2 linked regions of the Homo sapiens genome follow. The protein of the gene in region 1 interacts with the protein of each later gene in a pairwise test. Each region holds a gene or a part of one and is shown in the gene's direction. Other genes may lie near its edges.

Evidence for each region.
Region 2: the proteins of CCDC152 (region 1) and FARS2 interact in binary tests that used the Homo sapiens proteins (3 or more experiments, as listed by UniProt).

What each region holds. Positions count from the first base shown.
Region 1 is NC_000005.10:42,746,010-42,761,828, forward strand, and holds the start of CCDC152 (coiled-coil domain-containing protein 152), read left to right. Parts: upstream 1-10,808; 5' UTR 10,809-10,876; exon of another isoform or gene 10,877-11,216; coding exon of another isoform or gene 11,217-11,277; intron 11,278-13,110; coding exon of another isoform or gene 13,111-13,112; coding exon 13,113-13,199; intron 13,200-15,819.
Region 2 is NC_000006.12:5,539,515-5,555,437, forward strand, and holds part of FARS2 (phenylalanine--tRNA ligase, mitochondrial), read left to right. Parts: intron 1-5,665; coding exon 5,666-5,826; intron 5,827-15,923. UniProt on the Homo sapiens protein: Is responsible for the charging of tRNA(Phe) with phenylalanine in mitochondrial translation.

The sequences.
Region 1 (15,819 bases):
TTTGGTCTTTTCAGCCCCTTATAAGAGCACTAATCCCATTCATGAAGAAGAACCCTCATAACCTAATCCCCTCCTAAATGCTCCGCCTCCTAATCCCATTAAATTGAGGATTAGGTTTCAACATATGAATTTGGAGGAGAACACAAATATTCAGGCCATCTGCAAGGGCCCACAGTTGATTGTATGTTCTGCTGTTCCATCATGAAATTCTTAATAATTGAATAGGGGTCTCACATTTTTATTTTGCACAGGACTCCACAAATTATGTGGCCTGGCCAGCTCTGGTCACAGGGTTTGGGGCCCAGCACTTCTACCCACAGTTAGCCTCCAATAACAAAAGGTTTGATATTGGATTTTCTTTGTCAACTTCTTTTTACCATCCAGGCTCAGATATAAAACATTTTAATCCCATCTACCCCTAAAATTGGTTATAAGGTATTTTGTTAGTGCTCATTTTATATTACCACTTCCTAGCTCAGCAGCTGATTTTCTGCCCAGAGCCTTCAGTCAAGGGAACAGGCTGTCATTTCTTTCTGTTTGACCTAGATTCTTTCTTTAAAAATCCTAACATAAACTCTTTCAAGATGACTATAATGACTTAAATGGAACTGGAAATCACCTTTCTGCAGCAATATCACTCAAGACATGGGAATAAGGTTTTTATAAAGCACATTATGTAGCTGAGGAGACAGTGACACTAAACAAATTGAGAAGCATTCAATGCCATATGAAGTCAGTGGATGAATTGTTTGGTAAAAGTTATAAATGATATAAATTAATAAATTACTATTTATATCTTTAATTCTCTTTAAACTATATACACAATTACCTGGGAGATTCTGATCTCTGCTACTATGATCATTTTTAGTAGTAAAAAGTCAACATACTTTAAAAAGGGAAAAAGAAATAACTGAAGGATTTTCTGCCTTAGTTGAAGAATATTGTAAACTCAGTGAGATTAGATTGATTATTCAAGCCCAAGAAGCCCTGAAGTTACTTCCAGTGGAGGCATGTCTTCTGAGGTTACAACTCTGAATTTGGCAGCACTTATATTAGTAACAATATGAACATCTTTGATCAAGAATACACTAGACCTTCTCAACAAATAACATAAAATAGAGCTCCCTGAAGTTTCATTTCATTCGGTGATGATGGCTCTCCTTCAAAAACAGACATTGTCATTCAATGATGCATCAAAATATCTCAAATCCTAAGTGACTGTCAAAAAAAATCCTCTTAAAAGAATCTCAGAAGGATGGAGTCCATTTTAGAGGAAAATGAGTTGTGTGGATGAAAAGTTCATCTTTAGGAAAACCTAAAACTGCTTTCCCAAGAAGCCAGAAGGTGAAAATAGCAGTGCAGGAACCAAAGGAACAAATAAAAATGTTTAACAACTCTAACATGCAAATGGAACAGGTTGTAAGTAACTGAAAACCACTTATGGTCTCTAATTAGATTAGATTACTAGCTCTCTTTAGAATCAGAAAATGGAAGCCACTATTGATAATCTTTATCAATCAAAAGTCGACTTGAAAAAAAACCTCATTGATAGTGTTAACTTAAATGTTTCCTTTAATAAGGCTTGAAGAAGAAAAACAAAATATATTTTTAAAGTTTCTGTGAAGAAAATAAAAGAAGCACTTAGAGTTCAAATGGAAAGTTTCCAAACTGGGCAAACATTTATAGTCTGAAATGCACAGCTTAAAAATGAAATTCAAAAGCCTCAGCTCAAACTTCAGATAGTGCTTGAACTGCATCAAGAACACGTAATGCAACTTTGCAGAAAATTAATGGAGGAAGGAATTTACCACTTACAAGAGAGAAACCAAAAAATTTCCCAAAATATATAAAAACATGGCCACATACATCTGAAGACAGCTCCTACAGGGAGATGGCTGAAAGCCTGGGGTAAGAATAAGCTCCTTCTATCAAAGGAGTATTCTCTGCCATGAGGAAAAAACTCTAGAAAGATCGTTGGAGCTTTGTGAACTAACAAGATATTCAAAGAGCCACGAAGAGAAAATGGTCACAACAGTCAAAATTTGGTAGAAGTAGAGTTTAAGTTTCAGTTTTTTCCAGGTGGCCCCTTTTGTCATTGCTGTTCCACATACAGTCCCAGGCAGAGGCCAGAGAGGATCAGGAGATCCGCTAGACTCTCAGGTCCTCAGAGAAGGAGGATTGCATTGTGAGGACTCAGGGATCTGGTGTCACATACAGGCTGACAGCTTTCACAGCTGCCGACTCTGAACATCTACAAGACATTTGACTGTGTTTTCTCCCTTAAAAATAACTTTATTTCTTTTTTGTTTAATTTCAGTTATTTAATTAATGCTACATTTGCTGTTATTGAAGTTTGATAGAATCACATTTTCCCAAAATACTGTTTTGTGAATATAGGTGGTTTAAATGTAATGCTTATGAACATATTATTTCAACTTTCTTGAACCCTCTAGAATTAAACAGTTTAATTGCATTAAACAGGCCACTACTCCTTAAACCGCAAACCACTATTACATGACCAGGTGGAGCCATTTGAAACAGCAAACCATTTTTATATGCTAAGAGATGTTATTTAAAATATCTAAAAATAACAATATCTACCTCAATAAGTTTTCATTGGTTTTAAAAGCAACACGCACACATGCAAACACACACACACACACACACACACTAGTTAAACAATTTTTGTTGGTTTAGCCCTAAATCCATAGATTAATCTGGAAGACTGGACATTTTGCAAGCATTTGCTTTGTGTTTTGTAATTTCCTTTTAATCTTTGTTATTTTGTTTAGGATACCCTATACTGTTTAAATATTTCTAGGTATTATGAAGTCAAACTAAGAATTTTCACTTAAAAATTAATCGAATTTACTTATTTTATATCAAATGAATTCATCCCAGATTTTTAATTTAGTTGTTAAGCATTCTGGATGTATTTTTCATAGGAACACTATCAGATCACCACTTGAAAAGAACACAGTTTTGAAATTATCTTTCATTTCATGTTGGAGAAGAACACTTGACCAGAAGAGAACAAGGAGGCAGATGGTGGCTTCTGTGAGAATGATGAAGAAGACTCACAGACACTTCCAAGGTCTGCAGCATTGGTGTAGTGGTTTCCTATGTCATACTTTCTTTTATGTGAGTCACACTGCATTTATTTGCCATAATTTCATTTTCATAACATAGGAATGGATCCCAGAGAGAGAGAGATAAAGATTCCTTAAGACTAGTGGGCACAACCTGTGTACAGTAGAAAGATGTGGTTATAGTGGTGAGAAAGCAGTTGCCTGAGGTAGAATTAACTGAATAGTGAAAGTAAAATGGCAAAGAGTAGGCCTCTCACTGAGGGTTTGGGCTCATCAAACAAAATCTTGATCCTTTCTGACCTCATTAAGTGTCTTTTCAAGAAGATATGATATCCTCAACGTTTATAGACACTCTGCTGTGCCTTATACTGCCTATTCATATATCTAGCTTCAATTTGTTCATTTTTTGCTTGTTTTGGTTTGGTTTTTACTATAATCTTTTCTGGAGACACTAATGGCAGGGCTATGAATTACTTTTTTTGTAGGAGTCAGAGGGTGAAGCACATCCAAATTGGATCTGTTCGCTGTGGTTTTCTTTTTCTTTTTTTTTATTACTATAAGTTCTGGGGTACATGTGAAAAATGTGCAGGTTCGTTACATAGTTATACACGTGCCATGGTGGTTTGCTGCACCCATCAACCATCATCTACATTAGATATTTCTCCTAATGCTAACCCTCCATTAGCCCCCCGACCCCCCAACAGGCCCCAGTGTGTGATGTTCCCCTCCCTGTGTCCATGTGTTCACATTGTTCAACTCCCACTTATGAGTGAGAACATGCGGTGTTTGGTTTTCTGTTCTTGTGTTAGTTTGCCGAGAATGATGGTTTCCAGCTTCATCTATGTCCCTGCAAAGGATGTGAACTCATCCTTTTTTATGACTGCATAGTATTCCATGGTGTATATGTGCCACATTTTCTTTAACCAGTCTATCATTGATGGGCATTTACCTTGGTTCCAAGTCTTCGCTATTGTGTTCACTGTGTTTTAAGAGTCATCTGCCTCTACAGTTTCTCCATTTCTTTTTTGATATTGCTCAAATATTGACAACTGCATAGGAAGATATGTACACTCCTATATGTAGATGATTTTTAAAAAGCATTATCTCAAAAGTTACTTTATTTTGCTAACTACTATTAGAATGAATGAGCATATTTCAATTTTTCTTACACAAAAATCATTTGGCAGATGTCCTCTCTTAACTAATACAACAAACTATTTTTCCCCCTTTACTTAGGCCTGCATAATGGAACTGTTATTTTGACAGGTTTATGTAAGGGTAATTATTGGTAAACTTTTTGCAAAGTGGCTATAATTATTACCTTCCTGTATTTACCCCCTTTGCAGCTCCTGCCATCAATAGATGGAGTCTGTTTCTTCGCTACTTGAGTCTGCGTGGCCTTGTACCCTGCTTTTACCAATAGAATGTGTGGAAGTTGCTGTAGGCCAGTGCTGAACCTGGTCCTCTAGAGCAGGGGTTCCCAACCCCCACACTACAGACTGGTACTGGTCAGTGGCCCATTAGGAACTGGGCTGCACCGCGGGAGGTGAGCAGCAGGTGAGGAAGCGAGGTTTCATCTGTATTTACAGCCACTCCTCATTGCTTGCATTATCGCCTAAGCTCTACCTCCTGTCAGATTAGTGGTGGCATTAGATTCTCACAGGAGTGCAAACCCTATTGTGAACTGTGCATGCAAGGAATCTAGGTTGCACAGTCCTTATGAGAATCTAATGCCTGATGATATGTCACTGTCTCCTATTACCCCCAGATGGGACCGTCTAGTTGCAGGAAAATAAGCTCATAATGATTCTACATTATGGTGAGTTGTATACTTATTCATTATATATTACAATGTAATAATAAAATAAATAAAGTCTACAATAAATGTATTGTGTTTGAATCATTCTAAAACAATCCCCCCATCCCAGTCTGTGGAAAATTTGTCTTCCACGAAACCAGTCCCTGGTACCAAAAAGGTTGGGCATCACTGCTCTAGAGGGCCTTGCATGTCTGTGATTTCTTTCTCAGGATGATTAAACTCCTTAAGAACAAGCCTGGCTGAGCCTGCTAGAGAATGAGAGACCAAGTGGCAAAGTGACAAGAGTGATACCAACTAAGTCTCCAGAGACTGAGAGCCCGGCCCAGATGAGTAAAACTAGCTAAGCCACTTACCTGAACGATGGCTAACCGCCAATGCATTAAGAACCCAGCCAAGACGAGAAAACTTGCCTACCTGATCCCAGTTTAAACTGCTGACCTTAAATAGCATGAGCTAAATAAATGGCTGTTTCAAAGCACTGCATTTTAGAATGGTCTATTGTATCACAAAAGCTTGCTGATATAGGAACTAACATTGTTCATTGGTTCATTCTTTCTTTTATTCAACAAATATTTATTTCTGGCCTACTCAAAGCCAACCCAGGTTTGACACATTTATCCTAATCTTCAGAGGTTTGTTCTCATTTTATAAAGATGAAATGGAAGGGCAGAGAGATAAATTGACTTGCTGAGGACCACACAACTAGTAGGAGCAGAGCCAGGATCTGAAGCTAGGAATGTTGAAAGGCTCATTAACCTGCCCCCACCAACAATGTTATCACTAAGAAGGTAGGTTATGAAAAAGTTGATGTTCTCTGGGAGCAATGGAATATTTTAGGCCCAAATTGTCAAACTTATGCTCTATTATGACATTGAAGCCATCATGGATCACTTGTTTATGTACTGGAACAGACTTAAGACTAAATTTTGAGAAAAAGTCTGACTTCTTCTGAGAATACCACATAGCCACCTCCAAGTAGTTGTTGAATACAAGGCCATTGAAAGCTGGTTAGACTATTTTATTATCACAAAAATACTACCCTTACCATAGACTCACTATCTAAAGTATATTTATGTCAATAAATTAAGTAGAATAGCTTCACTTCCTGTCCTCATCCAAAAATGCAAACTCTGCCCAGATAGCAACATTGATTCTACTCTTAATGAAGCTCATTAAAAGATGGAATATTTATATATCTAAGTAGGATTGTTTCAGGAAAAGTAATCCAAGTACTGCACGGTTTAGACTTTATTTTAGAATCATGTTCAAATTCCCCTGTCCATTTGGAAAAGGATGGGGATTAGTCTAACCAACAGTGTTCCATTGGGTCATAAACCTGATGCATGGAATGTATTTTACCTAATTACTGCAGGAAATGCTGAGAGCTAGAGATCTACAGAACTCGAAGCCAAAGTTGCAGTTGAAGCCAAGACAATATGGTCCAGAAACAGATACTGAAATATGAGAATTACGTAGAGAAACCAGAGGAGGGAGATAGTGCATCAAGAGATCAAGTAGAGGTTAAAAGTAACCCTAGCATTTAAATGTTGCCCACAGCTAACATTTTTTTTTTTGAGACAGAGTCTCACTCTGTCACTCACTGTGGAGTGCAGTAGCGTGATCTCGGCTTACTGCAGTCTCCACCTCCGGGGTTCAAGGGATTCTCCTGCCTCAGCCTCCCTAATAGCTGGGATTAAAGGTGCCTGCCACCATGCCCGGCTAATTTTTTTTTTTTTATATTTTTAGAAGAGATGGGGTTTCGCCATGTTGGCCAGGCTGGTCTCAAACTTCTGACCTCAAGTGATCCACCCACTTCGGCCTCCCAAAGTGCTGGGATTACAGGCGTGAGCCATCATGCCCAGCCACCCACAGCTAACATTTTGATGGAGGACAGTCGCTGAGTAAATAAAATAAAAGTGAGACCTGAAGGGTACATTAAAATGTTAGCCCTTCAGTTCTCACTTTTATCTTATCTACTCAGCGACTGTCCTCAATCACTGTAACTGAAGCACCTCCCACTCACTTTTAAAATCGATATCATAGATTTGTGTTTCTTCGCACTTATTACAATTTTATGTATAGGTAATTTACTCAATGTATTACCTATTTCCCTTTTAAACTATAAGTCCTCTAAGGTCAGGGGCCAATCTGTTTTGTTTATTCCTAGTTTTCTCATAGACCTCAGGACATAGTTGGTGCTCAAGTATTTCTTGAATAAATAAATGTGTAATTACTGATAATCTTAAAAAGGCAAAGGAAAGAAATAAAAAGCTCTAAAAGCTTTCTACACAGAAGATCAATGCTTCTCAAACATTTATATGCACATGAATCACCTGGTAATGTTGTTAAAATGCAGACTTTGATTTAGCAGTTATGGGATAGAGTCTGAGACTGCATTTTTACAAGCCCGCAGGCGATGCCCATGTTGCTGGTGCAGAGACCACACTTTGAAAAGCAGGGGCCTAGATCATGATTCATTATGATTGCCATTTCTGATCCAATCTAGCCTTTTTCATAGAGATACTTCGAAAGTGTCTTAAAAAGCTCATTTCCACCTTTACTCTCAGGCTAATATTGAGGAAATTGCCTATTAAATTATCCAGTGCCTCCTATATGAATCTTAATGTGAAAAATTAAGAAGTTAGAGTTAGGGAACATGGTTCCTCCTGAGAAACTTGTATGTTTTCTCCTCTTTTACAAAAATAAATAAATAAACTAAGTAGTTAAGCCTGTATCCTTTTTTATTCCAACCATCAGTAAATTCAAAGCCAAATTTGTAGCAGAAATATAAAAACTTTGTTGACCTACAGGCCAGAGTATTTCTGTTTTATTTCTCTACTGCTCTTCAATTTCTAATTTATATTTCACCTTGTATAGGTGAAATATGTATGTAGCATTTTTAAATAAATATTCATGGAAATGAGAGCAAGCTGAAATTTCAGCAGTTGGTGAATTTGATTCAAAGACAAAAAGCATGGCCTAAACAGAGGTAAGAATATCGAGAGAGTTAAATAATAGGGCTGGAACAAAGGACTCCATAGATTAGCCAAACCACTTATAAACATTTGCTGTGATATGGGAGCAACACCATAATATTTTGTTGTTATAATATGCCGGTGATAGTAACTAAAATAATCAAGTGAGATTCCAATGCCAGAGCAATATTGCCAATAACATACACTAGATTTCAATCCTCTGCTAGTCTCTCCTTTGAGACTGTAAGCTCCAAGGCAAAAGGAGAGTCTCTTATTTGTCTTTGCTCTCCTTAGTGCCTAGACTTGCAGCAGCTGATGTTTTGTAAGTACTTAAATATTTTAGAATGAATTAATGAGTGAAGCTGTTTTCAACCTAAAAAAATCAATGTATCACTCATTTTAAGATCTTTATGTACATAAACCGGTAGCTTCTGATTTTTTTTCAGCTGCCCAGGTACATATGCATTTCTCTTCCAAATCAGGGTATTTTTAATGAATTCCAGTGTTACTTTCTTTGTTAGTATGACAAAATAATGTAGTTTGTTTCTCTATTTTGGTTTTCCAGGCAGTCTTAAAATATATATTAAATAAATCCTTGATCTATCAGAAAATAAATATTCTCTTTTTTCCCAACTTTTATTTTGGGCTTGGGGGGTACATGTGCAAGTTTGCTACATGAGTAAATTGCATGTTGCTGACATGTGGTGTATGAATGATCCCACATCCAAGTAGTAAGCAAAAATGAATATTTTCTGAGCAAATATTTGATGAATTCTGTTTCTCAGTTGGATGGTATCTGAAGAATAAGACTGTGAATACAACTGTGAAACACATTCACTTTTTAAAGATGAAATCATGACAAGTTCATTTAGTTTCTCATTGAAAGATGCACTCTAAACCTACTAGAATTCTTTGAAAAAAATGCTAACATCTATAAACTGGAAGATAAACTTGCAACCCATTCTAAACTAGAAAAATTAAGCTAAACTTTTCTGACTTATTCCTGATGTGTTGGTTCATTTCTATTTTCTCTATGGTAGGCTCTATGGAGAAATATATACATATACATATATATGTGTATATATATATACATATATGTGTGTTTGCATATATACATATATATATATATAATATTCCAACTTTCTTAGTCTCTACATCCCAAAATCATTAGATAGTCAAAGCTTCTGTATTTCAAATGTTGGAACATCCAGAAGATTTGGAAGTACAGATGAGGCAGGGGATCTAGGGAGCTCCCTCTCCACCTTACACATTCCAGTCACCACATATTTTCAAAGGACTCCTGAAATTTGCCTAGGATGGGCCTAGGTGGAACTTAATACATACATACATACATACATACATACATGCGCGTGTGTGTGTGTGTGTGTGTGTGTATATATATATATATATATATATATATAAAGAAAATAGAGTTTCTTCCCCCAAGGAGCCAATAATAAATACAGCAAAAGAGGTAATACATCAATTCAGTCTTAACAAATGCCACAGAAAGCTAGCATGTTCCATAGAGTAAGGAAAGGTAGATCACAACTGATTGATACGATCAGTGAATGACTCATGGAGAAGGTAGCATTTTAGCATTTAGGGTCTTAAAATGGGCTTGTTTCAAAAGTTATTATGACATGAGTTACATGGAACATTTTATATTTGCTAATTGGGTAGAACCCGCAATTCAGCAGGTCATTTTCAATATTTCTATGTGTTGCTACTAATGTTAGGGAAAGCTTATTTGAGCAGCAGAGTGAAGACTACAACCCCCATTTTCCACTTTAACCTAATTTTCTTGCCATTATGCCACACTACCTTTCAACTAGTAAAGTATGGGTTATCATATTACTGTTTATATTTTTTCACTTGCCAAATTTTGGAGTCTATCGAAAAATCACATTAACAAAAATAAACCTCCCATCTCCCACTCAGAAAAAAAAAAAAAAGCAGATGAGCAAAGTTGGCAGTGGATTCGCTTTCAAACTATTACTGAACAACATTCAAAAATTCTAATAATTAACATTTCTGAACACTTACTTTAAGCAAGGATCTCCATTAAGCACCTTATAAATGCATCACTTCATTTAATCATCACAACCGTCCTAAGAGGCAGGCTTCTTTTTTTTTTTTTTGACTGAGTCTTGCTGCTGCGGGTCTCGGCTGGAATGCAATGGTGCGATCTCCGCTCACTGCAACCTCCGCCTCCCGGGTTCCAGCAATTCTCCTGCCTCAGCCTCCCAAGTAGGTAAGATTACAGGAGCCCGCCACCACGCCTGGCTAATTTTTGTATTTTTAGTAGAGACGGGGTTTCACCATGTTGGCCAGGCTGGTCTCCAACTCCTGACCTCAGGTGATCCACCCCCCTCGGCCTCCCAAAGTGCTGGGATTACAGGCGTGAGCCACAGCGCCCGGCAGAGGCAGGCATTATAATTAATCTCTTATACAGATGAAGATGCTTAGGTGCATGAAATTAAGAACTTACCCACTATCACCCACGGAAAAAGAGAAGAGTTGGGGTTTGAATCCACGCAAGAGCCCACGCCCTTAATCATTAAGCTACCAAGATATAACTCTGTAGATGGGAAACCATATCTATTAACTGGCTCTGGAATTTTAAAAGGCAATTTTATAAGTTACAAAAATAGATATGGATAATTATTTATTCAATGGAGCTGACTCACAATTCAGAACACCCAATGTGATTTATTCTTTGGTTGGGGAAACAATTATTGATCCGGTGTTGATTCATGTTCTGGAAACCACATGAAAATACCTAAGCAGCCGCAGATGCTGAGCGGAGCTGGGCCAAGTTGGTAAGAACTGCTGGTGGTAGGAGCTCCAGCATAGCGCACAGGGCGGGCCCAGAGAAAGGCGGGCCCATTGTTGGGGGATTCGGCTTCCGGAGGAGGGGACAGCATTCAGGGGTGTACCAGGCCCCAGAGGCAGCGGAAAGGGAGACTGTGGGGAACTAGGAGCAACAGCAGGTACACTCCAAATTCTATTGACGGTTCGAAATTCCCGCTTTCTCCATAGAGATTCCTTTCTTCATATTTCATTACAGTGCTCTGGGTCCATTACAGGCTTTTCTTTTCAGACACCTCTCTCACATCCGCGGGTCCTCGGCCCCCATCCTTTATTTTTGCTAGGCCGCTAAGGACGCTAGAAAGCGATTCGAAACTCCCGCTTTTTCCATAGAGATGCTTTTCTTCTTATCTCCTTACAGTGCTCTGGGTCCATACAGGTTTTTGTCTCAGGCACTTCTCTCACATCCGCGGGTCCTCGGCCCCCATCCTTTATTTCTGCTAGGTCCCTAAGGACACTAGGATGACGGAGAGGGAGCCAGGGGACCCAGGCTTCAGGACTGAGAGTGAATTCTTGAGGGGAGGTGAGGAGGAAAGAGGAGGGACCAGAGCGTGGGGCAGGCGAGCGGCGAAGGACCAACTGTGTGGGGTAGGGGAGAGGACGAGCCCCGGGACTCAAGCCAGCAGACAGGAGGACCCAAAAGGAAACGGAACTGTCACGCTCCTGTGGGGATGGTTGAAGCCAGCAGGCAAGAAGACAAAGAAGGAAATGGGACTTTCACTTGCCTGTGGGGACGGTTGAAGCTGAGCCTTGAAGGTCACAAATCAGTCTCTGCGGCTCACTAAGGAATTTGACAAGCACTGAATCACCAGCTTGACACCGAATTTCACAGGGCAAGACCATATTCACTGAAAGGATCTTGACCTAAGAAATCAGAAGAGCAGGCAATGAAGATACCTAGAAATGAATTGCCTGGCTCTGCCATTATGGCAAAAGGGATATCATGCAACGATAGCAAATGGAATATTAGTGATGGTTTTACAAGGAAATAACAGGGTCTTCTTTGGGGGAAGGAGTTGAGAGAAAATCAAGCTCAAATTTAAATGCATTTATTTCAAGAGCCAGATTCTGAGACAAAACCCTAGTAAAACCTTTTTTATTTAAAAGGTTAGGTACCAAAAAAAAAAGGTGGGGGTGGAGGGAGTTTCCATTAACTACTTCAGATTACTATGTAGCACTATTAAAGAATAACAGTACTATCAAACAGCAATTATTTTTAATTTTACTCCAAAAGGAATTTTACTGTATCATGGGAGGCTATTAACAAATATTTTTCTGCTGTAAGGATCAAGTTTTAACTATTTAAGGGATTTTATATGTAGTTGTGCTTGCATATGTCATACATAAGATAATAATTCGAGATAATAATTCAAGAAACAAAATATACAGCCAAAAATCTGAGATTTAAAAACCATTAATAATTGCTAATGCAAAATATTTCAAAAGAAGAAAATGAGATATCTTGATGAAATAACATATTGTCAAGCAATATCTGTTTTGGTTAACTTCCTTTTAAACAATAATATGCCCCCAAATTGCTTTGAGTAACTACATCAGGAATTTTACTTACATTTTACTTTGGACTAGTTACCGCTTTCACACACCATACATTGGTTCATGTTTTTTCCTCAACCTAACATCCCTGAATTTCAAACTTGTATTTTCCCTTTCTTCTTTGCTATAGAAAAATCTAAAGACAAGTGTCTCATACTTGTTTACATTACATCTGAAGATGTAAACTCATCCAGTCAGAATGGATAAATTGACTTTTGCAAAATAGCCAGCATTTACATTCTGGGATTCTGAAGAAGTTCTTATGATTGATTTCATAGGACTAAAACTGAAACTCTTATTCTTCAGCAGTTAGCTGGCTATCCCCAAAGGTTAATCCCTTATACAAAATTACAAGACAATAGAAATGCAGAGAGATTGCTTTGAGCACATTAACTTCCATGCATCTTTTATTTACCAGTTTACCAAACAAAATATAAGAAATAAGCATAACAGCAGAAAACATCTGTGACATGATAGTTAAACAAGTATTTTTAACATCTTTAATTAAGAATAATTACAGTTAAAAGTCATGCCTCAGATTTAATATTGCATTAGGTTTTAATGCAGTAAAGAAACAAATATAAATAAGTCAACTGGGGTGTGGGTGGTAAGGAGTGGAAAAGACAATGCATTTGACCACTGTTAATATTGGTTATAACAAAAATTCTCGCAGTGCAATGGAGCCCAAGTAGGTGCCCTATGAGTTGAATATAGAAATGTTAGTATTTGAGCTATGAACACTATTGTGGTGCTTTAGATCTTATTTATTTATTTAACACTATCTACTGTTTACTACTTTCAGGCATGGACCAAAGCAGTGAAGGATGTATGAAAAAGATTAGCAGTGTGAATCTTGACAAACTTATAAATGACTTCTCACAGATAGAAAAGGTATGTAAAGATAGAAAACAATTCTACTATATAGGGATACATGGAACAGATTTTGCCAAGGGAAGAAGTTGGGAAGAAAGAAAAATATACCAAAAAATGATCAAGATAATAATATTATATTTTGCTATGCTCTTCTCTCTCATTTTAAAACTCCATGTTTAAAATATATCTGGCTTGGATTCATTTGTACTAATACATCAAAATGTCCCTATGACAGGGAAACAAATAATTTATGTACTTTTGCCAAAGTCAAACAGAAAATACATATAGTAGTCCCCTTATCTGAGGTTTTGCTTTTTACAATTTCAGCCACCTGAGGTCAACAGTGGTCCAAAACTATTAAATGGGAAATTCCCAAAATAAACAATTCATAAATTTTAAATTCTGCACCATTCTGAGTAGCACGGTGAAATCTTCCATTGTCTCTGTCAGTCCTGCCCAGGTTGTGATTCATCCTTTTGACCAGTGTATCCATGTTGTATTATAGACCACTTGTCTGTTAGTCACTTGGTAGCCACCTCGGTTATCAGAAGGGTGAGTACAGTACAATAAGATAATTTCAGAGAGAGAGACCACATTTATGTAACTTTTACTACAGTATATTATAATTGTTCTATTTTATTATTATTGTTATTAACCTCTTACTGTGCCTAATTTATAAATTAAACTTCATCATAGTTATGTATGTAGAGGTAAAAACATACTATATATAGGGTTCAGTACTATCTGTGGTTTCAGGCATCCACTGGAGGTCACGAACATATCCTTCCATGGATAAAAGGGAATTGCTATACTTGAAAGCCTACATTGTCCAGGCAGGGCACGGTGGCTCACTCCTGTAATCCTAGCACTTTGGGATGCCGAGGCGGGCGGATCACGAGGTCAGGATATCGAGACCATTCTGGCTAACACGGTGAAACCCCGTCTCTACTTAAAATACAAAAAATTAGCCGGGCGTGGTGGCAGGCTCCTATAGTCCCAGCTACTCCGGAGGCTGACGCAGGAGAATAGCCTAAACCCGGGAGGCGGAGCTTGCAGTGAGCCGAGATCGCGCCACTGCACTCCAGTCTGGGCGACAGAGCGAGACTCCGTCTCAAAAAAAAAAAAAAAAAAAAGAAAGCCTACATTGTCCATAAACTCAGGAATGGTTTTAGTAAACATTGAAGTAAATGCATATTTCAATCTGTTATTATAACTACTCATTTTTTAGTATTTCCTGTTCTATCTCTTCCATTTTCCTTCTTTTTTGCCTAAAAGCAAAGCCATTTAAAGTCTGTCTCCCCAACTCTGGACAAATGGTAGACCAAACCCACAAGTGTGTATTGGGTTTATCCTCCCTCCTCTGCCTTCAATAGCTGTTGAAAAATGTAGGTGGTTAAATGAAAGAATTGGGAAGTGACTTTGTGAAGCAAGAGTGGGAGGGAGGCTAATATCTACTTCTGTTTTCTCTTCTTTTCTTGTAATTCTTTTCTATTCCTTCTTTTCGTCAGCACACACACACACAAATGTCATAATGAAAGAATTTTTATGATCATGCGTATTTTGAAGTAACATGAGCTTTTTTTAAACGGTAAAGTTAAGTGTTCTTAACCGAGTGATTCCTAACATAATAAGAGATAAAAGAGAAAGGAATAAGAAGCATTTTTGGTGGGAAAGGAGTTAGTGCAATGATTTTGGAAATTAATTTGGAAATATCTGTCATATTCTTAAACACTTTAAATAAGAAATAATTGTTCATTTTTGAGGTGATGATGGTATTGTGGCCATATTTTGAAAGAGTCGTCTCTTGGAGATACATATGGATGGTAATATTAACAGATGAAATAACATAATGTCAGAGAGTTGCTTTGAGATCAATTCAAAAGTGGTGAGACTAGGGCAGTGGATAGAGATACAGATGATATAAGACTGTTCATGAGTTGATTTTTGAAGCTATTTGAAGAGTATATGGAGGCTTATTATACTATTCACAAAAATACCCAAGAGATATGGTCAAGAATGTTTAACCATTACAAAAAGTAGAATATGGCCTCTGTCTGTCTCTCTCTCAGTAAGAGACTGGTTAAATAAATTACAGCATATTCAAAAATGAAACTGAATGTAGCTGTTAAAAAGAATGAGGTAGGCCAGGTGCGGTAGCTCACGCCTGTAATCCCAACACTTTGGGAGGCCAAGGCAGGTAGATTGCCTGAGCTCAGGATTTTGAGACCAGCCTGGGCAACATGGTGAAACCCTGTCTCTGCTAAAACACAAAAAATTAGCCGGGTGTGGTGGCGTGCCCCTGTAATCCCAGCTACTCAGGAGGCTGAAGCAGGAGAACTGCTAGAGCCCAGGAGGCAGAGGTTGCAGTGAGCCAAGATTGCCCCACTGCACTCCAGCCTGGGCAACAGAGTCAGACTTCATCTCAAAAAAAAGAAAAAAAAGAATGAGGTAGATCTATGTGGGTTTACATGACATCATCTCCCAGATAATAGTACTAAGCGGAACAGCCAAGGCACAGAACAGAATATAATATGATTTCTTTCTATAGCTGTACAGTCATAAAATATTTTGGAAACATATATAAGGAATTGTTAACCATGGGACTGAGAGTTGAATAGTTGGAAAGAAAGTGGTTCAA
Region 2 (15,923 bases), on another chromosome or scaffold:
AGCTACCGCACTCGGCCAACCATTTCTACATTTCTAATAAACCAGCTCTAGAACATCTGACTTTTAGCAGTGTAGCTTTGCAGTGAGCCTTCTGAGAAAAGCAATTGGAAGTTGTATTTGTGAAGGTAACTGTTTTTATCTTTTCAGTGAATTCTTGGATATTAGCCAATGTGATTAATGACTTTAATTTTAAGACTCATTGATGTTAAGCCATTCTGTATGGCAGTAATGGAATGGCAGGAGCAACTATCTCTTGTGGCCATTTCAAATGCGAAAAACTGAATTCTCATCATCAGCATTACTCCCAGTGTGCAGCTTACCTCGTCACACAGGACAGCCCAGCCTCCCCTCGCCGTGTTCTGCAGATGTGATTTCCAGCTGGCGGTGCTCCCTCTGCTCCGTCTCACCCTGCTCCATTCAGAAGACGTGCCACATCAGTCTGGAAAAGCAAGTCCTCCTTTACTCTGAGACATATTACAGTGGAGCCTAGACTGCCATCATCATGGCAACCATGGGGCTCCCTCTTATGTGAAGTTCGTTCGCCCTTTACCTGAGCCATGTTTTTCACCTGTCCCGCTTGGCAGTGCATGCGTGGGTCCGGCCTCTTCAGGACTGCTGTGCTTGGCAGCTCCCTGGCTCAGCTGGGAGGAAGATAGCAAATGGGAAATTTCTCTGTTTTTCCATAACTTTATGATAATTCGATTTTGGACTCATACCTTTATTTCTTATTGTTTCTGATATTTCTATTTTGACAAACATAATAGAATGTAGATTTACCTTTTAGATGGTATTTATTCCCTTCAATGCTGTTACTTCTGAGCATTTTGTGATCATTTCCATTTCTCATCTGTGAAACTGGTATTCAGTGTCTAGCAAGCAATGAATGAAGCATTTAGTGCTTTTTTTCTTCTTCCGTACGCCTTTAGCCTCCCAACCCTTAATTGTGAACATCGTGTAAACTTTGCTTTTCAGAACACCAGCCCTTTTTTGCTTTTCTCTGAGACATCATTCATTCGCACTGTCGTGTCTTCAGCTTTGTGCTGTGAGAGTGACTCAAAGAATCCACTGTGTGGGAAGCACATGTTCTTCTCATTAGCACAGATATATGTCTAAAACTCGTTTATGGAGTAGTCAATACTGTGTATGACATTGTGTAGGGACTGTTTTCTCAGAACTCTCAGGTTTAGATGGGGAGAGAAACTTGTAAATGTGATAGTTGCTAATAGAAATATGTACAGCGTGTTTGTCACGGGGAAATGAAGGTAAACTTAATGCTTCAGGGTCAGAGGAAGAATCTCACAGTCAGAATACTTCAATGAAGTTTTAGAGGACCATGACAGGTTACTTTAGGAGAGGGGCAAGTGTTAGGAAGATCCGCTATATTATGACAAGGACATATGATGTTTAGAGAACTGTGGATAATCTGAGGTGGTGGGCCCAGCACCAGGTGTGAGGGGCCTTTGGTGCTGTTGTTAGGGGTTATATTTTCTTTCCCAGTCATAATTCTCAGCTTGCAGTCTGCAGATTCCTAGGGGGTCTATGGATCAGCACTTAGAATATGTAAGAGTTTGCTATGGAACGTCTTAACTTTGTGGGTTTAAATATATATGTAAGCTATATTGGCATGTTCTATATCATTTAAATCATTACACCTCAAAGTGTGGTGCTCAGAATGGTGCTGATCCACAAACTATCAGTTTCCAGTTCACAAGGAGATAACCACAGAGGCTGAGAGTAACCGTTGAGAAACTTACAGCAATTTGACTTGGTACTGCCGTGTCATTCAAGTGTAGTATGTTTGAAATGCCAGTTTGTTGAAGTAGTATTACACACAACAGAATTCATACTTTTAAAACATAGCTACATGAGTTTTGAAGGATATATACAGTCATGTAAACACCCCACAATCAAGATAGAGAAAATTTCCATCTCCTGGAAAAGTTCTCTTATGTCCTACCAATCTGTTATCTGTCTCTATAGTTTCGCCTTGTCTAGAATGTCATGAGAATTGAATTCATATTGTAGATAATCTTTAGTGACTAATCTCTTTTTGTTAAACATAATTCTTTTGAGATTCATGTATTTTGTTCTGTATAGGAATAAGTTATTTTTATTACTAGGTCATATTCTGCTATCAGAAAAGGGTCCTGATCCACACCCCAAGAGAGTGTTCTTGGATCTCGTGTGAAAAAGAATTCCGGGCAAGTCCGCAGTGTAAAGTGAAAGCAAGTTTATTAAGAAAGTAAAGAAACAAAAGAATGGCTACTCCATAGACAGAGCAGTGGCATGGGCTGTTCCACTGCATAATACTTAGGGTTATCTCTTGATTATATGCTAAACAAGAGGTGGATTATTCATGAGTTTTCCAGGAAAGGGGCAGGCAATTCCCAGAAGTGAGGGTTCCTCCCCCTTTTAGAGTATATAGGGTAGTTTCCAGACATTACCATGGCATTTGTAAACTGTCATTGTGCTGGTGGGAATGTCTTTTAGCATGCTGATGCATTAAAATTAGCATATAACCAGCAATGAGGAGGACCACAGGCCACTTTTGTCGCCATCTTGGATTTGGTGGGTTTTGGCCTGCTTCTTTACCATATCCTGTTTTCTCAGCAGGGTTTTTGTGACCTGTATCTTGTGATACCACCCCTGCTGACCTCCTATCTCATCCTGTGACTCAGAATGCCTCACCTCCTGGGAATGCAGCCCAGCAGGTCTCATCCTTATTTTACCCAGCTCCTACTCAAGATGGAGTCACTCTGGTTCAGATGCCTTTGACAATTCTACTATATGGATATACCACAATTTCTCCATTCACTGGTTGATGGACATTTTGGGTGTTTTGGGGTTGAGCTATTCTGAATTAAGCTGCATTGGACTTCCAGTGCACATGTTTCCATATCTTAGGTAAATACTTAGGAATGGAATTGCTCTGTCATATGCTAAGTGTCTGTTTAATTCAGGGTTTCTCTGTTTCATGTTTTGGGTTGGATAATTCTTTGTGGTGGGAAACCATTCCGTCCATTATGGGATCTTTAGCAACATCTTTGGCCTCTACCCACTAGATGTCAGGATGCTCCCCACTCCCAGTTTTGATCACCAAAAATGTCTTCAGACCTTACCAAATGTCCCCTGGTGGTTAAGATGGCCCCCAGTTGAGAAATATTGGTTTATTGTAAAAAACTACCAAACTGTTTTTGAAACTACCAAAGTGGTTTTATCATTCCCACCCAATAATTTACGAGTTCTAGTTTCAATGTGTCATATCTTAATTTTTATTCATTTAAATATATTTTCTGATTTCCCTTGTGATGACTTCTTTGGCTCATGTGTTACTTAGAGAAGTATGTTGTTTAATTTCCCAATATTTGGGAGATTTTTCAGATATTTTTCTGTTGATTTCTGATTTATTTGCATTTGGACATAGAACTTTTTTTGTACAATTTCAATCCTTTTAAATATTTGAAATGTATTTTGTGTTCCAGAATATGGTCTGTGGTGGTGGATGACCCATGTACACTTGAAAAAAATGTCAATTATGTTGTTGTTGAGTGGAATGTCATGTGCATAATTTTATATGTGACCAAATTATCAGCCTGTGATGTGCTGGAAATGTTTAAAAAGTTCTTTGCTAATGACCAGTGCCTCTCCATCTGTCTGTAGCTTATAGCCTGTGTTCCCATTTGTCTTGATGATTGCCTTGATGCCAAGTGATAACCGCAGGTGCTGGTGTTTCACTTATAATGAAGCCTTTTCCCTCCTGGACTTTGCACACCTAATCCTGAAGCTCCATGAATGTTCTGGTTCAGCTAGAGCGAATGGGGATTTGTGAAACAATTATAAGGGTTTTCTGTTGTTGGTGGTGGTTTTTTTTTTTTTTTCTCACTCTGTGGACCAAGCTGGAGTGCCATGGCACAATTTCAGCTTACTGCAACCTCCACCTCCCAGGTTCAAGCAGTTTTCTTGCCTCAGCCTCCCGAGTAGCTGGGATTACAGGCACACGCCACCATGCCTGGCTAAATTTTGTACTTTTGGTAGAGACGGGGTTTCACTGTTGGCCAGGCTGGTCTTGAACTCCTGACCTCGTGATCTGCCAGCCTTGTCCTGCCAAAGTGCTGGGATTACAGGCGTGAGCCACCGCTCCTGGCCAAGTTTTTTATGTTTTAGGAAAACATTAAATGCAAGGTAGAAATGAGAACAAAATGTTTCTTGTGGCTCGTTGAGACGAGTCCTGCCTGTATCTCCAGAATCCACTCCTCAGCCTTCCCGTGCTGCATCCCGTCCCATTGCTACTGAAGAAACTCCTTCAGTCTGGAATTTCCTATCACTTTTCTCTACATTTTGAATCTGGATTAGTTATGTTTGTTTGTTTGCTTTTTTTTTTTTTTCTGGGTAACAAATTACACTTAGTGGCCTAACATAGCACGAATTGACTATATCATAATATCCTTGCATGAGGAGCCTGGCTATGGATTGATAGGGTCCCCTGATCAGGATCTTACCAGGTTGAAATCAAGGCAGAGGCAGGGCTGTGTACTCTGAAGCTGGGGTGCTATCATCAGCTCACTCCAGCTATTGGGAGAATTTGTTCCGTCCCACTGTAGAAGTGAAGTTCCCATTTTCTCCCTGGCTGCTGGTGCCTCTCTGAGCTCCTTTAGGACTTCTCAAGGGCCCGAGCCATGTGGCCTCTTCACAGCCAGGAGGTGGATCTCTCTCCAATCGGCCAAGATGGAGTCCTAGATAAAAAGTAAAGCAGTCACAGGCTTAAATTCCCATTGTGTTCCTAGATCCCACCCATACTCAACGGGAGGAGTTTACACAAGGCATGTGCATGCGGGGTGGGAGTCTCCGAGGCCATCTCAGCCTACCACAGGATCCTACTCATCTGTTAGTGTCCAGTTGGAATTATATCCTTTCATGAGCTCATTTCATAAGCTTTCCTGCAGTGTGAACTGCTCCTTTGCCTGCCTTCATTCTGCAGTTTCTATCTTCCCTTTTACACTGCCTCAGTTTGTGAAGTAAACCCTTCTAATTTATGGCACTGACACAATCTGAGCAGGACACTGTACCTTTGGAGTAGGTGGTGCTAGTTATACCCCTCGTCTGGGCCTGCTTGTGTTCTCTGCAATGCTGAAGTGGCTGTTGGTAAGAATAAGCATTATGGTGTTTAATAAAACTGAGGTTCTTAAAGGCATGACGTATGTACTTTCTTCATGTAAGTTCGTTCTAAACATGTTATGGCCACTATGGCATGTTTTGAATGTATCTCATTATCTACTACACTTAAGGACAGAGACCGTCTTTTCTTTCCACTCTGTAACCTATATTCAGTGGGCTAAATGTTTGAATCAGAGCAAGCAAAGACTACAGAAAAATCATAACTCAGTTCAGGAACCAGTGCTTCAGAAAGCCTAGAATGTAATCAGAAATGAAAGACAGTACTCCAGACAGTATGACTTCAGAATCCGTTCATGAGGGCAGTCCGGAATATGGAGATGAGAAAGCGTGGAAGATTGGGCACCCTCATGGATGTCTTTGTAGCGGCTGCCCAGTGCCTTTGCCCGCTGGTAGGCATCTAATTAGTGTCACTGATAACTGTCAGGGAGTGGTATGAACCTATCCAATCTCGATACTTTTTAAAAACAACTATTTTGTTTCCTAATCACAGCTGGTGCTCAAGACCGAATCGGCTGGGCTTTTGGCCTAGGATTAGAAAGGCTAGCCATGATCCTCTACGACATCCCTGATATCCGTCTCTTCTGGTGTGAGGACGAGCGCTTCCTGAAGCAGTTCTGTGTATCCAACATTAATCAGAAGGTGAAGTTTCAGGTAAGATGACTTGCAAGAACTGAATAGATAATAATAAAAATGGCTGTCAAGGATCGACAGGATCATGTACTTGAAAGCCACTGAATTTTATTTTATTTATTTTATTTTATTTTCATTTTACTTTAAGTTCTGGGATACATGTGCAGAACGTGCAGGTTTGTTGCATAGGTATACGTGTGCCATGGTGGTTTGCTGTGCCTATCAACCCGTCATCTAGGTTTTAAGCCCCACATGCATTAGGTATTTGTCCTAATGCTCTGCCTCCCCTTGCCTGCCACCCCGCAACAGGCCCCGGTGTGTGATGTTCCCCTCCCTGTGTCCATGTGTTCTCATTGTTCAACTCCAACTTATGAGTGAGAACATGTGGTGTCTGGTTTTCTGTTTCTCTGTTAGTTTGCTGAGAATGATGGTTTCCAGCTTCATCCATGTTTCTGCAAAGGACGTGAACTCATTCTTTTTTATGGCTGCATGAATTTTAAATAATGTGAATTTGTAAAGAAGTTCTGGCCAGGCATGGTGGCTCATGCCTTTAATCTCAGCACTTTGGGAGGCCAAGACGGGTGGATCACCTGAGGTCAAGAGTTCGAGACCAGCCTAGTCAACATGGTGAAACCCTGTCTCTACTAAAAATACAAAAATTAGCTGGGCATGGTGGCACGCACCTGTAGTCCCAGCTACTTGGGAGACTGAGGCAGGAGAATCACTTGAACCCAGGAGGCAGAGGTTGCAGTCAGCTGAGATCGTGCCATTGCACTCCAGCCTGGGCAAAAATAGCGAAACTCTGTCTCAAAAAAAAAGAAGTTCCTAAATAGAGGTCCATAAACACACAAGGGGTTCATAAACCTTCAGAAATTTTATGCAAGAGAAAAGATATTTGTCAATATTATTAGTCTAAGCAGAGAACCAATTTTGTACTTTTTTTTTTTTTTTTTTTTAGACAGAATCTCACTCTGTCGCCTGGGCTGGAGTGCGCGATCTTGGCTCACTGCAACCTGCGCCTCCTGGGTTCAAGCAATTCTCCTGCCTCAGCCTCCTGAGCAGCTGGGATTACAGGCGCCCACCACTACGCCCAGCTAATTTTGTGTATTTTTAGTAGAGACGGGGTTTCACCATGTTGGCCAGGCTGGTCTCAAACTCCTGACCTTGTGATTCGCCCGCCTTGGCCTCCCGAAGTGCTGGGATTACAGGAGTGAGCCACTGCGCCCAGCCCTCATCTAGTATCTTTTCCAACAATTCTACTCCATTCATTTTTCAGAATGAAGCTGCATATATGTTAGACCATTTGATCCTATGCCATAGAACTCTGATGAAAGGTTTTTTTAATTAACGATTTTCTTTTCCTGTGTGCTTTATTTTTGATAATTTTTATTGTCTTCTCTTTGGGTTGCTCATCTTTTTTTTTTTCCTGTTTTGTCCAAGTAACCATTAAGCCCATCCAGTGAATTAATCATTCCCCAGATAACTGTATTTATCAATTCTAGAATTTGCATTTGCTTCCTTTTTAGAGTTTTCATTTATCTACTGAAATGCTTGATTTTTTCATCCATTTCATCCATTCTTCCTTAAATTCTTTCACATATTCATAATGGTTATTTTATTTTATTTTATTTTATTTTATTTATTTATTTTGAGACGGAGACTTGCTCTGTTCCCCAGGCTGGAGTGCAATGGCATGATCTCAGCTCACTGCAACCTCTGCCTCCTGGATTCAAGCAATTCTCCCACCTCAGCCTCCCGAGTAGCTGGGATTACAGGCATACACTGCCATGCCTGGCTAACTTTTGTATTTTTAGTAGATACAGGGTTTCACCATGTTGGCCAGGCTGGTCTCAAACTCCTGACCTCAGGTGATCTGCCCATCTTGGCCTCCCGAAGTGCTGGGATTACAGGTATGAACCACTGCGCCCGGCCTCATAATGGTTATTTTAAAGTACTTGTCTGTTAATTCCAACCATTTGATTATCTAGTGTTCTTTTGTTGTGGTTGTTTTCCCTTCCTAATCATGGCTTACATATTTCCTGCTGCTTCACTTGTCTTTTTGTTTTTTTTTTAATTGTGTTTGAATGGACAAAGACTGAGGTAGATAAAATTTATCCCCAGAAAGTCTTATGCTTTCTACCTTCTGGCTGCTAAGGTGACTAGGCCAGATCTTTTTGTTCTAATCAGGAGTTGAGTTGAATTTCACATCTGCTTTCCTCTTGATGGTGAGATCTAGCCCTGCAGCAGAGTTTGGGATCTAACCATGTGAGATCACAGGATCTCTTTCTGCTTTCCATCCACTTACCAGCTTCTTCCACCACCAGCGTTTGTAAGCAGAAATATTATGAAGGAGAATTGGCTGGCAGTGAGGGTTAGCTCTGTTTCTCCATTTTCCAATCTGCCATGCCAGCCCATGCTTGGCTGACGCAAGTGTGGCTCATTCTTCTTATTCCAACAAAATGTCTTTGCCAGTAGCAGGCTAGCTCTTCTGCCTACTCACGCCCCAGTGGCGACAGCAGCCATCAGTGTCTGTCTACCCTAGAAGGGCTCATCTCTCTCTGGAGTTATACTTATTTATATTTGTGTACAGACCTTTTCAACTGTATTAGTCCATTTTCATGCTGCTGATAAAGATATACCCCAGACTGGGAAGAAAAAGAGGTTTAATTGGACGTACAGTTCCACATGGCTGGGGAGGCCTCAGAATCATGGCGGTGGGCGAAAGGCACTTCTTACATGGCAGCAGCAAGAGAAAATGATGAAGAAGCAAAATCAGAAACCCCTGATAAACCCATCAGATCTTGTGAGACTTAATCACTATCACGAGAATAGCACAGGAAAGACCGGCCCCTGTGATTCCATTACCTCCACCTGAGTTGCTCCCACAACATGTGGGAATTCTGGGAGATACAATTGAAGTTGAGATTTGGGCGGGGACACAGCCAAACCATATCATCAACTTTAAGGACAGGTATGATTTTTATGAGTGTATTTTGTTATTGTTATAGTGAAGCACACTGATTTTGTGTGTGTGCCCATCTGCATCTTGAACCTTTCTATGTATATATGCATATATTTTTGGTTTTACCTTATGAGGACTTTTAAAAACTTCTACTTGAATAATTATCTGTTTTATTTTAGCATCAATTTCCTTGTAGACTAATTTGAAATAAAGCTGTATCTAATTTACAATAAAACCTGGCTAGGGCTGTAACTTTTTCTCATTCTCTTTTTAATATATTGTCAGTTATTTAATCAGCAAACATTTAAAGAACACCAACATCGTGTAGAATGGTGTGCTCAACACCATGGTGTGACAAATAAAGATGAAAAACACAGTTGCCACCAGAATTAAGTGGCTTAAATTCAATTTTAAGTGTACTTACAACAATCTTTTTTTATGAGACACATAGAAATAGACTCTTGATCTCTTGCACTAAATGTCATTTTTTTTCTCCTTTCTGCCTTCAAATTTGAAAGCCAATATATGCATACCTGCACTAATATATAATTTTTATAGTTGTCTTTGTGTAACAAACTTAAGAACTTCTAACGGGGCAATTAGGATTTGTACATTCATATTTAGTATATGTTCATAAAATACTTTGTGAAGTATAGATTATAGATCATACTATTACCTAAGTATTCACTTATAATTAGTATCTATTCTTGTTAGTTTCCTGTTGCTTAGGTAACCAGTTACCACAAATCTAGTAGCTTAAAACAACATGTATTTATTATTTTACAGTTCTAGAGGTCAGAAAACCAAAATCCACCCAACTGGGCTAAAGTTAAGGTGTCAGCAGGGCTGACTCCTTCTGTAGGCTCTTGGGGGAATCCACCTTCTTGACTTTTCTGGCTTTTTTTTTTTTTTAATTATACTTTAAGTTCTAGGGTACATGTGCACAACGTGCAGGTTTGTTACATATGTATACATGTGCCATGTTGGTTTGCTGCACCCATTAACTCGTCATTTACATTAGGTATTTCTCCTAATGTTATCCCTCCCTCTTCCCCCCACTCCACGACAGACCCTGGTGTGTGATGTTCCCTGCCCTGTGTCCAGGTGTTCTCATGGTTCAGTTCCCACCTATGAGTGAGAACATGCGGTATTTGGTTTTCTGTCCTTGTGAACTGTCACCTTTTCCGGCTTTTAAAGGCCATCCTCAGTCCTTGGATCACAGCCATGCATCATGTTGCCTTTTCTCTCTCCTTCATCTTTTGTCACATTGCCTTCTCTTTGACCTTTGCTTCTTTCTTATAAGGATCCTTATGATTGTATCAAGCCTTGCTGGGTAATTCAGGATAATCTTCCCATCTCAAAATACTTCTCTTAAAGTAATCCTTTAATACTTTAATACAAATTAATTCTCTAATACAAAAGGAAATGTAAATTTCCTGTTGAATATAAGGTAATGTATTTCTAGGTTACAGGGATTAGGACGTAGATATCTTTGGGTAGGGTTGGGGGCATTTTTCAGTCTACCAGAGTCTTCCCTTTGACCCCTAAAGATTCACATCTGTCTTTTGTAAAATACATTCAGCCTATCCCAAGGTCCCACAAACTCTGAACCCATTGCAAAATCAACTCAAAATCCAAAATGTCATCTAAATATCATCAGCCCCTAAGTCCCATTTCATCATTTAATTATCTAAAGCTGGTTTATGTGACACTCTGGGTATGATTCATCCTGGGGCAAAATTCCTCCCCACTTTTGCACCTGAAGCGAGGTACCTACTCCCAAAATACAATGAGTAGGATAGGCATTGGAGAATAGTTGTAGACATTTCCATTCAAAAAGGGAGAAAATGAAAGGAGAAGAAAAAGAATCACTGGTTCCAAGCTATTTCAAAATTCAGCCATTAGGTTTCAAGGCCTGGGGATAATTCTCTGTGGCCCTTGGCTTCACCCATTTGACCTGTATTTCTACCCTCTAAAATATCCTTCTTTTTTAAAGTTCTTTTATTTATTTATGAGGCCAGGTCTTGCTCTTTCATCAGGCTGGAGCCCAGTGGTGCCATCACGGCTCACTGCAACCTCCACCTCCCAGGCTTACATCTCAGCCTCCCGAGTAGCTGGTACTACAAGCACATGGTACCACGCCCAGCCAATTTTTTGTGTTTTTAGTAGAGAAGGTGTCTTGCCATGTTGCCCAGGCTGTTCTTCAACTCCTGGGCTCAAGCAGTCTGCCTGCCTTGGCCTCCCACAGTGTCAGGGTTACAGGCATGATGAGCCACTGTGCCTTACCTCCTTTTTTGTTAAGGGTGGCATGTATATGCAGGTGAGTTGTTTTATTACCCTGGCTTTTGCCTGAAGAATTTGGGGAGTCAAATAGCCTTCTTTCTTTCCTTCTCTTTTTGTTCTTTTGTCCCTCTCAATTCCAGCTGACAGTGTTCCTGATGGTAAATCATTCTCAAAAACCTTGTGGCTCTCCCATTTATATCATAGGGATTCATTCCATTACACAAGAGGCTCCTCTGCAGATCTTTCTTGAATAATTCATTGCTATTTCTGGCTTCTGCTGAGACGCCTGAGGGGATCCTTGACTCATATGCTTAATTTCTTCAAAGAGCCCTCTGTTTGACTAAATACCCTGATCCTTCAAAACTTCTGAGGCATTAACAAAGGGTTGTATAGCTGCACTCATGGCTTTCTCTCCAAAGCACTTTTCTTTCAGCAAAACCCCTAACTTTTTGTCTTTTTCAGTATAGATAGGCTAAGAATTTCCCAAATTATCTAATCTTGCTCCTCTTTGCATAGCAGTTCTCTTAATTTGTCTGTTTTCTCCTGCAAGAATAAAGCAGGCTGCATTTTCACTGTTTGCTTGGAAATTTCCTCAGCTAAATATCCAAGTTCATTGTTTACAAGTTTTGCTTTCCACTTCCAATTCATCTAATTCTGCCGCTATGAATGAACAAGGATCCCCTTTCCTCCACCTTCCACTAACATGTTCCTCATTTCCTTGCGAGCCCTCACCAGCAGGGCTTTTGACATCTGTATTGCTACCACCAGTATGTTTATGAATATTTGGATATTCTCAGACAGTATAGGTTTTCTCTACCATGCTCCTCACTTTTTCCTTGCCTGTCACAGTCTATAACATCCATATTTCTACAAGAGTCTCTTTAAGGCAAAATAGCCATTTAATATCATGGTGCTCCAAGTTATCTACTACCCACTGACCAATTCCAAGGCTAATTCCACATTTTTATGTATTTGTTACAAGCAATACCTCACTTCCAGATACAAAAATACGTATTAGTTTCTTGTTGCTGCTATAATAAATTACCACAAACTTAGAAGCTTAAAACAACATGAGCTTATTATCTTATATTTTTGGAGGACAGAAATCCAGAATCAGCCTGATTGGCCTAAAGTAAAGGTGTCAGCAGGGCTGGTTCCTTCTGGAGGCTCTGGGGGAGAATCTGTTCCCTTGCCTTTGCCCGTCTAGAGACAGTCCTCAGTTCTTAGCTTATGACAGCATCACGTTGCCTTCCCCCAAGCCCTGCCACTTCCCTCTGTAAACACCTCACCCTCTCTCTGAATTTTTGCCTCCCTCTTCGAAGGACTCTTCTGATTACATGGAACCCACCAGGATATTCAGGATAATCACCTCATCTGAACATCCTTCCTTAATTATATCTATAAAGATCTTAATGTAGGATAACGTATTCTCAGGTTCCAGGGAGTAAGAGATGGATATCTGTGGAAGGGGGCTATTATTTAGCCTATCACTTGTGCCATTTTATATCCTATTTCGTCATGACAGATTGCTTGCCTTCAGATATAATAGAGTGGTTTGTCTTTAGGGATAAAAAATAAGGATAGTATTAAAGTGTTAGCCATTTTTAACTATTTATGTAGAGTAGTCATATTTACATATATAAGAGGGGACTGTGTTGACAGAAAACTTGTTTTATTACTACAGTTGACCTGCCTTGAGAAAAATACTTAAAATGATTGTAATTCTCTGCAATCTCAGAGGTGGGGCGAGAAAATGGGGAAAAGGCCTGCTGGCAGCTATGAACTTGTGGATCCCCTGGCCAGGAAACTCTGGAAGCCATTTGGGAATCCTATTGTGCAAGAAGCAGAAATTTCTCTTCCTTGGTCTCCTTTTAGGCCCTCCTAAGTGATGCTCTAGGCTGTGTTGGCTTCTGTGGTGTCTTTCTCTGTGCGGCCTCCACATCCTGTCCTGTACATTTTTCTGTCCAGCTGTGGGGCACTCTCCTGGGTGCTAGCAACAGTCTCTGATTGATGGGACCCTGAGTCCTCACCTGTGTGACTCTTTTCCTGCATACCTTGAAACCCATTGTTTAAATCTAGTCGGTAAGAAACTCAAGTTAAAATGTGATTTTAATTTTTGATTTTCATTTTACATATTTTGAATTAAGTGCTTTGCCTACCACGGCTTTCTTTAACCAACCTGGATCTGTGCTTGAGATAAGTGGGTCAACAATATGGTTGGTCTGTTATGCAAGTGATAACTTGTTCTGTCCACCACTGCAGCTTCCCATGCTGTATTCGTTCTGAGTGTTTGGGTCTTTGTTGCATATACTCCTGCCAACTCCCCTGAAGCAAAATTTGCTGTTTCAGTGCATTGAACTGAATATTCAATAATAAAACTTTAATTTATACTTTGTTTTTTAAACAGTCTAAAATTATGAATTCAATATTTAGTCCTACACAGAGCGATACTTATTGAAAATTACTCAACATTGTACATTTTACTTACAGATTTTATTAGAACTTACTAATTCTGTGTCTATCCATGGTGGCTTACAAGGTCAGCCCTCATTGGATGAAATAATTCAGCAATGTTGGCTGTTATCTTTTTTGCCAGTTGAAGGGTTTTACTGGCTCTCTTCTGAGGCCACAGACTATAATATTTCTAATCCTGAATGGAGTCTCAAATACTTATCACTGCAACAGGAGTAGATGAGGATGGATGGGTAGTGGCTGCAAACCTATGATACTACACTCTATCCAAGATGATAATACTGGTAGTTAGTAGTTAATACTTACTTCAGCCTTACTCTGTGTCAAGCATTATTATAAAGACTTTCCATGTCTTAATTTAATTTTCTCAGTAACCCTCTGAGTTTGGGCGCTGTTATTCTTGCAGTGTTATACGTGAGAAAGTTGTAGCAGAGCCATCATCTCAATAGCATCGTTATATTATGTATGTGGCTCAATCAGGGCTTCCAGAAGCCATTCCCTAAAGTTTAACCTGAGTATAAAACTCATAGGTAGATTATTCAGAGCCGAAGGATTTAAATTTTTTTTTTAACAAATCTAAAAATCAGTATACAGTTTACAGAAAAATACAGCATGAAGTTTAAATGATCTAATTTATGAACTTACTGGTTTGTAGGCTACAAGTATTAATGCTTTCTCAAACTTCAGTGTGCAGGTGAATCCCTGATGGAGCTTGTTAAAATGCAGATTCTAATTCAGTGGGTCTGGGGGGGTGCCTGGGATTCTGCATTTCTAACAGTCTCCCAGGTGAAGCTCATGCTGCTGGTCCACGAGCCACACTTTGAATCAAAGTAATGATGGTTAAAATTATTTAACTTGTCAGGGTCTCAGCTGCATCGTCGTTCAATCAGATGGTAAAAGGAGATGGTCTGACTAGGTGGTGAAACTCACTTCCTTCTCTGTTGCACTCTCATTTTGAGTATAACTATTATAATAAGCAGGTCTGTAATTTGATACCTTTGGCACTCAATCTTGAAACTATTTTCTTTCTTTTTGCCCTAAATTTTTTTTCCATGGATTTCCAACAGTTGTAAAACTATTACACTTGTTTTTTGGATTAACCGCTGAAACTCCTTCCTTCCTTTCTCCCTTGTATTTTTCAAGGTGAGGGAGCTATGTGAATAACTCATTTAGTTTAAATGCACATTTTTAAAAATTATACTTAAGTCAGAGATTTGCTTGTGCATGTTAATTTGTGATGGGAAAGTGTTAGTATTTACTTCAGAAAAAAGGAAGCTAAAGACGAGGAAAGAAGAGAAAGGGCAAAGAATTTGGAAGCATCAGCAGGAGGGACAGTTACTATCAAAGAGTCTTGTATCAATTAGGTCATCTCTGAGGTCAGTCATGCCTAGAGTCCCAGGGAAAACTCTGGGTCAGAGTTCATCCTTGCTATTTCTATGGTAGCAAACATCAGCCATGAGTGCTGCATGATATGAGGCCTGGGAGTTTCTTAAGGCCAGGATTGGCTCTTTCATGCCTTATAGCAATCACAGTTCAATACACTATTCACCTGTACATTAATTTGTTGAGGACCTTATAATACTTGGCATTTGTTGAATGCTGTGTGTAAGCCATTGAGCTAAATGCTTTGCCTATGTTAGAGCTTTTATGCATCACAGTGGATGAGGCGAGTACTATAAATCCATATTATAGATTCTGAAACTGAGGCTTAGCGTCAGCAAGTAGTTCAACCATAACTGTGGTAGTAAGTAACGGAGCCAGGATTTTAACCAAAGCTGACTCCAGAGAGCTCCTAATATTGAACTAGTAAGCTGTTACTGTTGCCTATACCAAGCTGCTGTGCTAGATGCTAGAGTAAGGTGAACTTGGTCCCTGACTTAAAGTTATTTCTAATCTAGAGTATGAGGCAGGTTTGTCAAGAGACACTTATTAAATAATATGTAATATGGTTTGGCTCTGTGTCCCCACCCAAGTCTCATCTTGAATTGTACTCCCATAATTCCCACGTGTTGTGGGAGGGACCAGATGGCAGATAATTTGAATCACGGGGGCGGTTTCCTCCATACTGTTCTCGTGATAGTGAGTAAGTCTCACGACATCTGATGGGCTTATCAGGGGTTTCTGCTTTTACGTCTTCCTCATTTTCTCTTGTCACCACCACATAAGAAGTGCCTTTCACCTCTCGTTATGATTCTGAGGTCTCCCCAGCCACACGGAACTGTAAGTCCAACTACAACTCTTTTTCTTCCCAGTATCAGGTATGTCTTCATCAGCAGCATGAAAACGGACTAATACAGTGTGTAACACTGGTGCAACTATACATAGGTGAATGTCGAATTTCACTGATACTGACCGATGAATGTGGTGGTCAAAATTTTCTTCTTCGTTTCTTTAATTCTTT